3 separate regions of the Homo sapiens genome follow, and all the other regions are linked to region 2. The links come from fine-mapping of genetic effects on gene expression. A gene starts in region 2. Each other region holds a variant in brackets. All regions are shown on one strand. Distances are between the middles of the regions.

Evidence for each region.
Region 1: its variant is fine-mapped to the expression of C1orf21 in esophagus muscle (GTEx, PIP above 0.99). The same link has a PIP of 0.9 or more in aorta, esophagus mucosa, gastroesophageal junction, subcutaneous fat, thyroid and tibial artery.
Region 3: its variant is fine-mapped to the expression of C1orf21 in whole blood (TOPMed, PIP above 0.99).

What each region holds. Positions count from the first base shown.
Region 1 is chr1:184,605,483-184,608,247 of GRCh38, reverse strand. The region is part of intron 5 of C1orf21 (chromosome 1 open reading frame 21); the gene reads right to left. LOC107985236 (a long non-coding RNA gene) reads left to right here. Exons shown (of 4, transcript XR_001738328.3): 4 at 1-789. Among named protein-coding and RNA genes, the nearest start is that of EDEM3, 150 kb to the left of the region's middle. The variant G/A (reference allele first, on the strand shown) is at 1,287.
Region 2 is chr1:184,385,467-184,388,231 of GRCh38, reverse strand. C1orf21 (chromosome 1 open reading frame 21) reads right to left here and starts at 1,203. Exons shown (of 6, transcript NM_030806.4): 1 at 864-1,203. C1orf21-DT (C1orf21 divergent transcript) reads left to right here and starts at 1,528. Exons shown (of 1, transcript NR_172919.1): 1 at 1,528-2,479. RefSeq lists silencers at 1,168-1,427, 1,458-1,567, 1,658-1,717.
Region 3 is chr1:184,519,028-184,521,792 of GRCh38, reverse strand. The region is part of intron 3 of C1orf21 (chromosome 1 open reading frame 21); the gene reads right to left. Among named protein-coding and RNA genes, the nearest start is that of C1orf21, 130 kb to the right of the region's middle. RefSeq lists an enhancer at 984-1,545. The variant C/T (reference allele first, on the strand shown) is at 1,274.

The sequences.
Region 1 (2,765 bases), 220 kb before region 2:
TTTAAAAGATACAGAAAAGTATGAAGAATGTAAAGACACTATATTCCCACCACTAGACATAAGAACTAGTAATATTTTGTACCATCTCCTGCTAGCCTCTGCCCTCCTTCTAAGAAATGAAACTACCACCCATTTCTCATTCCCCATCCCCGGGCACAGCAATGTTCATGGGTTTGGTCGGTTTGTATGTTTGGTATCATTTTAGATACTTTGATATTCATCTTATATCGATATAACAAATATACTACACTTTTATGTGTATATGAATATTTAAATATATAACAGATAAAAACACATGCCATTTGTAAATATGCCATGTAAAAACTGATGGTGCTTAATAAATATTTGTTGAATGTCCATCTATAAACAATGTATTTGTGTGTTTTTAATGTACATGGTATCATACAATTTTTATCATTCTGCATAATCCTCTCTTCACTTAATAATTGTATTTGAAATCTATAATTGTGACTCTTTCTCTCTATATATGTATATATATACACACACATATATATGTATATATATACACACACATATATGTGTATATATATACACACACATATATGTATATATATACACACATATATATGTATATATACACACACATATATATGTATGTGTATATACACATGTGTATATATATATCTATATGCTTGGTTTATGTCTCTTAACTGCTGCATAATATTGCACTGTATGAATATGGAGGATTTTAATTATTCATTTCTCCATGGGTGGATACTTAGTTTTCTTCCAGTTTTTTGGCTGTTGAATAAAGAATGCTGCAGTGAACTTTATTGTAGTTTAATTGATGGTTTTTACCGGTTTGCACTAATATTACTTCTTTATATATTATGCCTACAAATCATTTGATGTTTTAAGTGTTATAAATATATTCCAAACTCACTCTAGATCCACACCTGGGAATCATCCGGCCCATTAATAAGGTAGATACTGACCATGATACTCATCCGGCTCCCTGTGCCTGTTTTCAATTTGTAAGAAGCCCAGAAGAGAGGCAGGGTATGATTATGCATCTCTAAGCAAGCCTCCAACAATCAATTTTGTAAATATGAGCTTACAATTTTTTGGTACTCCTTTTTGAATCAACTTAGAAAAATGGAATTGAAGTGAGGGGAGTCTAGAAGTGTCTGCTCCAAGAATGCTTTCTCTAGGAACAGAGCAGAATGTGCCTGCACTTGATAGAATTGTGAAAGAGAGGAATAAAGTGCACCAGAAATAACATAATACTTCAGAATAAATTTTTCAAGCAATGTTCAGAACATAAT[G/A]TGCCTCATAATTCCTTCCCAGCTGATATAAACGGGAATGTCTCATTCTTTGCTATGGAGGGTGCTGTTTAGTGGGAGATGAAAAGTTGAGGGTAAATTGGATAAGACATTCTCTAAAGTTCCTTCCAATGCAAAATGCTATTCTTCCAGATTTGAGGCTCCCTAAAGACAAGAATCCTATTTTATCATTCCTCATTATGTGCCTCTCATGGCCCTGGCTCATTTCTAGGTCCAGAGAACATGTTCATGTCAAGCTTATTAAATGGATCAAAGAAGTCAGTCTTACAATTTCTATGATTTTGTTTGGAGCCCCTTTCCTAAATTTTTTTTGTTGTTGTTACAAGCATATTTAGGCTGATAGTAATACTTTTTTGTTTTTTAAGAGACAAAGTCTTGCTCTGTCACCCAGGCTGGAGTGCAGTGGCACAATCACAGCTCACTGCCACCTCAAACTCCTGGGCTCAAGTGATCCTCCTGCCTCAGCCTCTCAAGTAACTGGGACTACAGGTGAATGCCACCATACCTGGCTAATTTTTATTTTTATTTTTTGTAGAGACAGGGTCTTGCAATGTTGCCCAGGCTGGTCTCAAACTCCTGGCCTCAAGTGATCTTCCCACCTCAGCCTCTCAAAGTGTTGGGATTACAGGCATGGGCCACTACACCTGGCCAATGAATATCTTTTAAAAGGCTTATAAAAGCCTTTCAAATGAGACACAACAATTAAGAGTAAAACTTCCAAACAGAAAAAAATATATAGGGATTCAGCTGTAGCTGTATCCATGCCACTGACTCACTGACTCATTCTGTAATCACAGCTCGAAAGTTAGCACAGGTTATTTAATGGCTCTGTAAGTGTTCACAAGAATCTAACTCCTGAACATGTTTATTACACCACATAGGAGGGAGGTGGATGAATACACTGGAAACTGTGCGATTCTACTACTCTTTCTACAAGGAGATATTTGTACCGTAGGAAGGCACTTGCTCACGCAGGATCCAAGTTTCTAAGTTCTGCATTTTCAGGTTCGGTTTAGCACCACCCCCAACAAGCCCATCCCAAATCCTTCCTGTATAAATGGCCTTGATGGTACAAACACAGGCGACTTCAACCAAAATGAAGGCTACCAATTACAGAGCACATACAACACAGCAAACACTACTGGAGACTCTGTGTATTTTCTTCAATATCCCAGACCAGTTAGTATTATTTCTCAAATTTTATTGGTGAGAAAACTGAGAATCAGAGAGTTTAACTTAACCTGGGGTCACACAGCTGCTGCCAGAGCCAATCCTTGGCTTTGGCCCAGGTTTGAAGCATGGGCTCTTTCTCTTGCACCATGCTGCCTCCTTCCCTTGGCCTCTATCAATCCAATTATCTGGCACTGTGCTTGCTCTATACCTGCTACGCTGCTCCAAGTAGAGATGTCTACTCTAGGAGTCTTCCAGGTAACATTTCCTGCCTTTGTATGCTTCTGTCTC
Region 2 (2,765 bases):
GAAGAGAAATGAACGAGTGCTGAGAGCCCTTAAGCCCAGGACTTCTCTCACACAAACAGTAAGTGGAAAGGAAAAAACAAAAACAAAAACAAAAACTAACCCTCCGTAGAGGGAGGGAGCAGGGTGGATGATAGGGAAAGGACATTAACCAGCAGACCAAAGGCAGCCGCGGCGGCGGCACTTCGCGAACTGCCTGCAGAGGAGAGTGAAATCTGTTTCGTGTACAATAACCAAGCACCCTCTGGCTGCCTCGCATGGGCACGAATAATAAATACACCGAGGTGGGCAAACAGATGCAACGAAACGAGCCACCCCAAAAAGGTCAAAACTTCAGAAATCCCGGGGGTCAAACCACCCACACAAACACATCAATCAGTCGGAGCGAGAGAAGGGACTTGGATACTTAGCAAAGGATCCTAAATTGTGTTTTTCCTTTCAAGCTCTGGCTTGCAAAGTACGGTGGCTACATGCAAAGCTAGAGGAGAGCAGGAAGGCTGAGGGCGGCAGGGTGCGGGTGGGAAGGGAGGGGTGTCTAACACCAGCCACCCAGGCCTCGATGTGACGAAAGTCGTCAGCAGCCCCGACCACATCCCAGCCCCTCCGCCCAGGCCGGCAGACGCCCCTCGCGGCTCCCCCACCCCAGCTTCCGTCCCTGGCAGCAACCCCGCCAGCCCCGCACCAGCAGCAGCCCCGGCCCGGGCCCCGCGCAGGCAGCGCCACGACCGCGGCTCCCATCCCTTCCGTGCGGCAGACACCCCGCAGGCCTCCCTCCCTGCCCACCCGGGGATGCCCGGGTAGCCGAGCCGGGGCGGGCTGCACCGCCAGCTCCCCCCGCCCCAGAGCAGGCAATGGCTCACACTTACCTTGGGCGTTCGCGGGGGGGCTGAAGGTGGCAAGCCTCCCGCCCCCCGCCCCTGTCCTCCTCGTCTTTTTTCTTCCTCCCTCCTCCTCTTCTTCCTCCTCCTCCCCACAGTGTGTCCGGGGCTCCCCCTCCTCCCCGCCGCTTGGAGTAAGAACCCAAAACCCCGAAGCCGGGCCCGCGTGCAAGCGTGCGGGAGGCGGCGGCGCGCGGCCAGCTCTCCAGTAACTGAGCGCGGCGCGCAGCTCCCAACTAAAGTGTGAAAGAAGCAGCGGCCGCGGCGGCCGCGGCACGGAACGTCCCCCCGGGAGTGGGCAGGGAGCGAGCGGGAGCTTGCGAGGAGCGAGCGAGGGAGGGGAGCTCCTCGCTCAGTCACTCACTCGAGGGGCGGGGGCAGCAGACACTCCCCCACCGCCGGCCCCTCCCCGAGCCTAGCTCCCGCGCGCGCCTGGCTCTCCTCCCCGGGGCGGGGCCTGCGGAGGCCGCCGGGGCGCAGCGCGCTGGGGAGCGGGTTGGGGGCTGCTAGGGCTGCGGGGCGGGAAGGAGGCGGCAGTGTGTGTGTGTGTGTGTGTGTGTGTGTGTGGGCAGGTGTGTGTGTGTGTGTACGTGTGTGCGCGCGCGCCCTGCAGCGGCCGGCCAGCCGGAGGGAAGACCCCGGCGGGAAGACTGCGTCCCGTCCGGCCTTCCCGGGCCTGTCACTTGGGCGGTGGCGTGGGAGCGGCGAGGCTGCTCGGGGGGCAGCCGGGTGGGCCCAGCTCTAGGGGAGATTCGGGTCAGCCCCTGAGCCCAGCCTCCCGGCTGTGCCTGCTGGAAGCAGACGGAGGGAAGGCCGGGCGTCTTTGGCCCACCGCGCGGCCGCTCCCCTCCCGGGCCAGGCTGAACGGGCGGGCGCAGCCCAGAGGCCCGGGCTCTGCCACCGATCCGCCTCCATACTGACCCGAGCTGCGGCGCCTGCAAGATTAATGAAGCATCCGCGATTCGGTAGAGGCGGCACGGGGAGGAAAGACACAAGATCGTGCTGCCCCCCTCTCCCCACCCTTCTCAGCCTCCTAGGACCTAAAGGCGTAGGCTGCGTCTGCTGGGCGCGTCCGGAGTGGTCCAGAGAGATCGCCATCCACCACTGCATCCGTCCAGTTCTTTGTGGACCCTCACAGAAGCTCAATCAATTTCCCACCCTCTGGAAAAGGGTATTTTTCTCTTCCCTGGCATATTGGGTGTTTCTTGTGTGCACCTAATTGATCTTTTTCCATTGATAGCCTTTGGATGTCTTTTGTGCGGCTTCCCCGCGCTTCACTGCTCCCTCATTGCCTTAGACACGCGAGGAATGTCAGGCCCCCAGAGTGAGAACACCCAAGAAAACAATAGGGGCAAAAGATCCTCCCTGGGCCTCGCGGATTATGCACAAACCAGATCATTTCCCACATTCGGCCAGGGTGAAGATGGAAAATGGAAAAGAACGCCATCAGAGTGGTGACACTGACGAGAAAAGCCAATTCATAATTTAGTTTAATGAAATGAGTTAGTAATCAACCACTAATGTCTAGGAAATTGGCCTTTTTTGAAAACTGGTTTTCCCTTTCTCCACCCCTTTTTTTTTCAAATTAAAAGACTAGTATCCCACTGTTGTTGTTTTAATTTTTATTGTTTTCAGGGATGGGGTCTGCTGCCAAGGCTGGATTCGAACTCCTGAACCCAAGAGATCCTCCTCAAGGGATCTTCCCCATCTCAGCCTCCCAAGTAGCTGGGACTACAGGCCAATTCCACCGCACCCTGCCTAACATCACATTGTTCAGGAACCTCAACTTACATTCCATTTTTACAAAATATCCATATTCTGGTTCATACTTCTTGGAGCCCAAATTTTTTGTAGTCTAGCCTCTTGGAAAGGAGCGGTTAAGAAGGGAGG
Region 3 (2,765 bases), 130 kb before region 2:
ACCGAGATCCCCAGGCTTTCATTTTTGTTTGTGTTTTTAATTTATGTACGTTAAATTTCACTCTCTTTGCTATAAAGCTCTATGAATTTTGACAAATGTATAGTAACATGTACCTACCATTACAGTACCATACAGAATAGTTTCACCATCCTAAAAGAAAAATCCTCTGTGCTTCACCTATACACCCTTCTTTTTTGTACAAATCTCTGGAAATCTACAGTTTTGCCTATTTCAGAATATCATGCAAGTAGAATCATACAGTGTGTATCTTTCAGACTGGCTTTTCTCACTTAGCAATATGCACTTATCCATGTTTTTTTCATGGCTTGGTAGCTCATTCCTTCTTATTACTAAGTAATATTCCATTGTCTGGATGTACTACAGCTTGTCCACTCATCTATTGAAGGACACCTTGGTTGCTTCCAGTTTTTGGTGATTATGAATAAAGCTGTTACCAACATTCACATAAAGGTTTTTGTATGGTTACAGTTTTTCCAATCAGTTGGGAAAATACCCTGGGAGCACGATTTCTAGACATATGGTAAGATTATGTTTAGCATTGTAAGAAATTCAGATCTATTTTGTTTAGAAAAAAAATTATATTGGCCGGGTGCAGTGAGTGGCTCACACCTGTAATCCCAGCACTTTGGGAGGCCGAGGCGAGTGGAGGTCAGGAGTTCGAGACCAGCCTGAGCAATATGGAGAAACACTGTCTCTACTAAAAATACAAAATTAGCCACACATAGTGGCGTATGCCTGTAATCCCAGCTACTCGGGAGGCTGAGGCAGGAGAATCATTTGAACCCGGGAGGCGGAGGTTGCAGTGAGCCAAGATCGTGCCATTGCCCTCCAGCCTGGGCAACAAGAGCGAGATTCCATCTCAAAAAAAAAGTTATATTTCTGTATTTCTATTTATATTAGGCATAAAAACATAAATGATTGTTATGGGGTTTATGCCTGATTTTATTTTTTATTCACTTCTGTATTTCCCAAAGTATGTTTTAAAGTAATTCAAGCAAGTAGTATGTTTACAAACAGAGAAAGGTTAATTTTAAAAGTACAATTAAATAAAGTACAATTATTTAAAGTACAATAAATAAGAAAATAACAGGAGTAAACCAATCCATTAGCTATGGGTGGTTTACTTTGTCTCACTAGATGGCCATCTCCTGGCCAGCAGAGATTGTTTGATTTGAGCTGAAACATTATGAGCAGTAAGGCATCGCTGTGAATCATTAGAATGAGATTCTCTGTTCTCTTTGTCTGCAGTTGG[C/T]GTTCCCTGCTGTTCCTTTAGGTTTCATTGTGCCTCATACTCAGGAGAAGCAAAGGAAACCTGGCCTGATAATGTCAGACCCATGTGCTAATAATGAATCTTCAGCTTCATTTCTGAGACCAAGCCCTACCTCATATTCCAGTTCCACTCACCAGATTCCTGTCTCATTTTATGCACTCAACTGTAAAAATTCTAAAAGAAGTATTTGCCTAAAATTAAGCAAGCTCTCAAGTTATCCAGTTATAAGCAGAAGTTTGCCAGTAAATGAGACTCTGTAATGTACCATTACACTCGAACAGGAACCAAAAAACGGAGTCATCTCATTACATTTTGGGAAATATTGTTGTCATTATCAATTGTTTTACTTTTCAAAGAAGGAAGAAATTTGGCATCTGTTATCATACAGAGCACTGAGTAAATACATTAATCCTATTATGAACATGAAGCAGGCACTTATAATGGTACCTTCATATACTTATTATAATGTTGACAAGCTAAACAATATTCCTCCTCCCTCCAAGGAAGATGTATGAAATTTTTATGCCTCATTATTTATTTCTATGTTTTCTGGATGACAAGAATAAACTCCATTTTCAGAACTACCAAAAACCTGGTAAAAATAAAAATCATAAGGCTGGTGAATCCTGTATCTCCGTTAATACTGGGTATTATTTGCTCACAAATGAAGTCGACAGGAAGAGATGCTTACCGGAGCCGAGACTCCTGGAAACATAATGGTTGCTTTTGATACTCTCACCTCCAAGGCATAAATTATTAATGTTGGGTGAAGCTACCTCACTGAGTTTGCCAATAGATGAGTGAAATTTATATGCTGTGGTTTTATTTTTAGCAACACATAGGGAATAAGAGAGAAATCTGAACAACCTGCAGAAAGTAACACCACTGTGTTATTGTTCTGGGTACTCTAGTAACAGTGGCCCAGCCTTAAAGGTGGCCCTCTCAATTGTCACTCATTTCCCCCGACTCAGGTGTCTCAATGGGGCCACTTGCATATAAAAAATGCTCATGTTTTAGTGAGATAAATAAATCCACTATCTAAAATGACCATGTAGATCAAACAGGATCAAGCTTTGAAGAGAGCTTCTTTCTACTTTCTACTTAAATATCAGGGTCCTGCTCTTAGAGAAGAGGCCAGAAATCTAAAGTATTGTTTATGTTGCTGTATTTCCAAAAGTTAAACAGGAAAGTTTCAGGGGATAAACTAGATGCTATCCTTTACTGGACAGGAGGAGGTCAAGAGTAAATCTGTTCAACCACTTTTAGATAGCACCCTGCATCTAAGGAAAGCATGTTTAAAAGCAATCACATTTTATAACAATGCTGGGAAAAGGGAAGTCATTATCAACACCCCAATCTTTAAATTAGACCAGCAGAGGTCTGTTCTATTTATTCTGTCGTTACAAATACTGCAAACTGGCCAAACAATGTGACTATTGGTAAACCAAAAATTAATGTGCTGACAGGAAAAAAA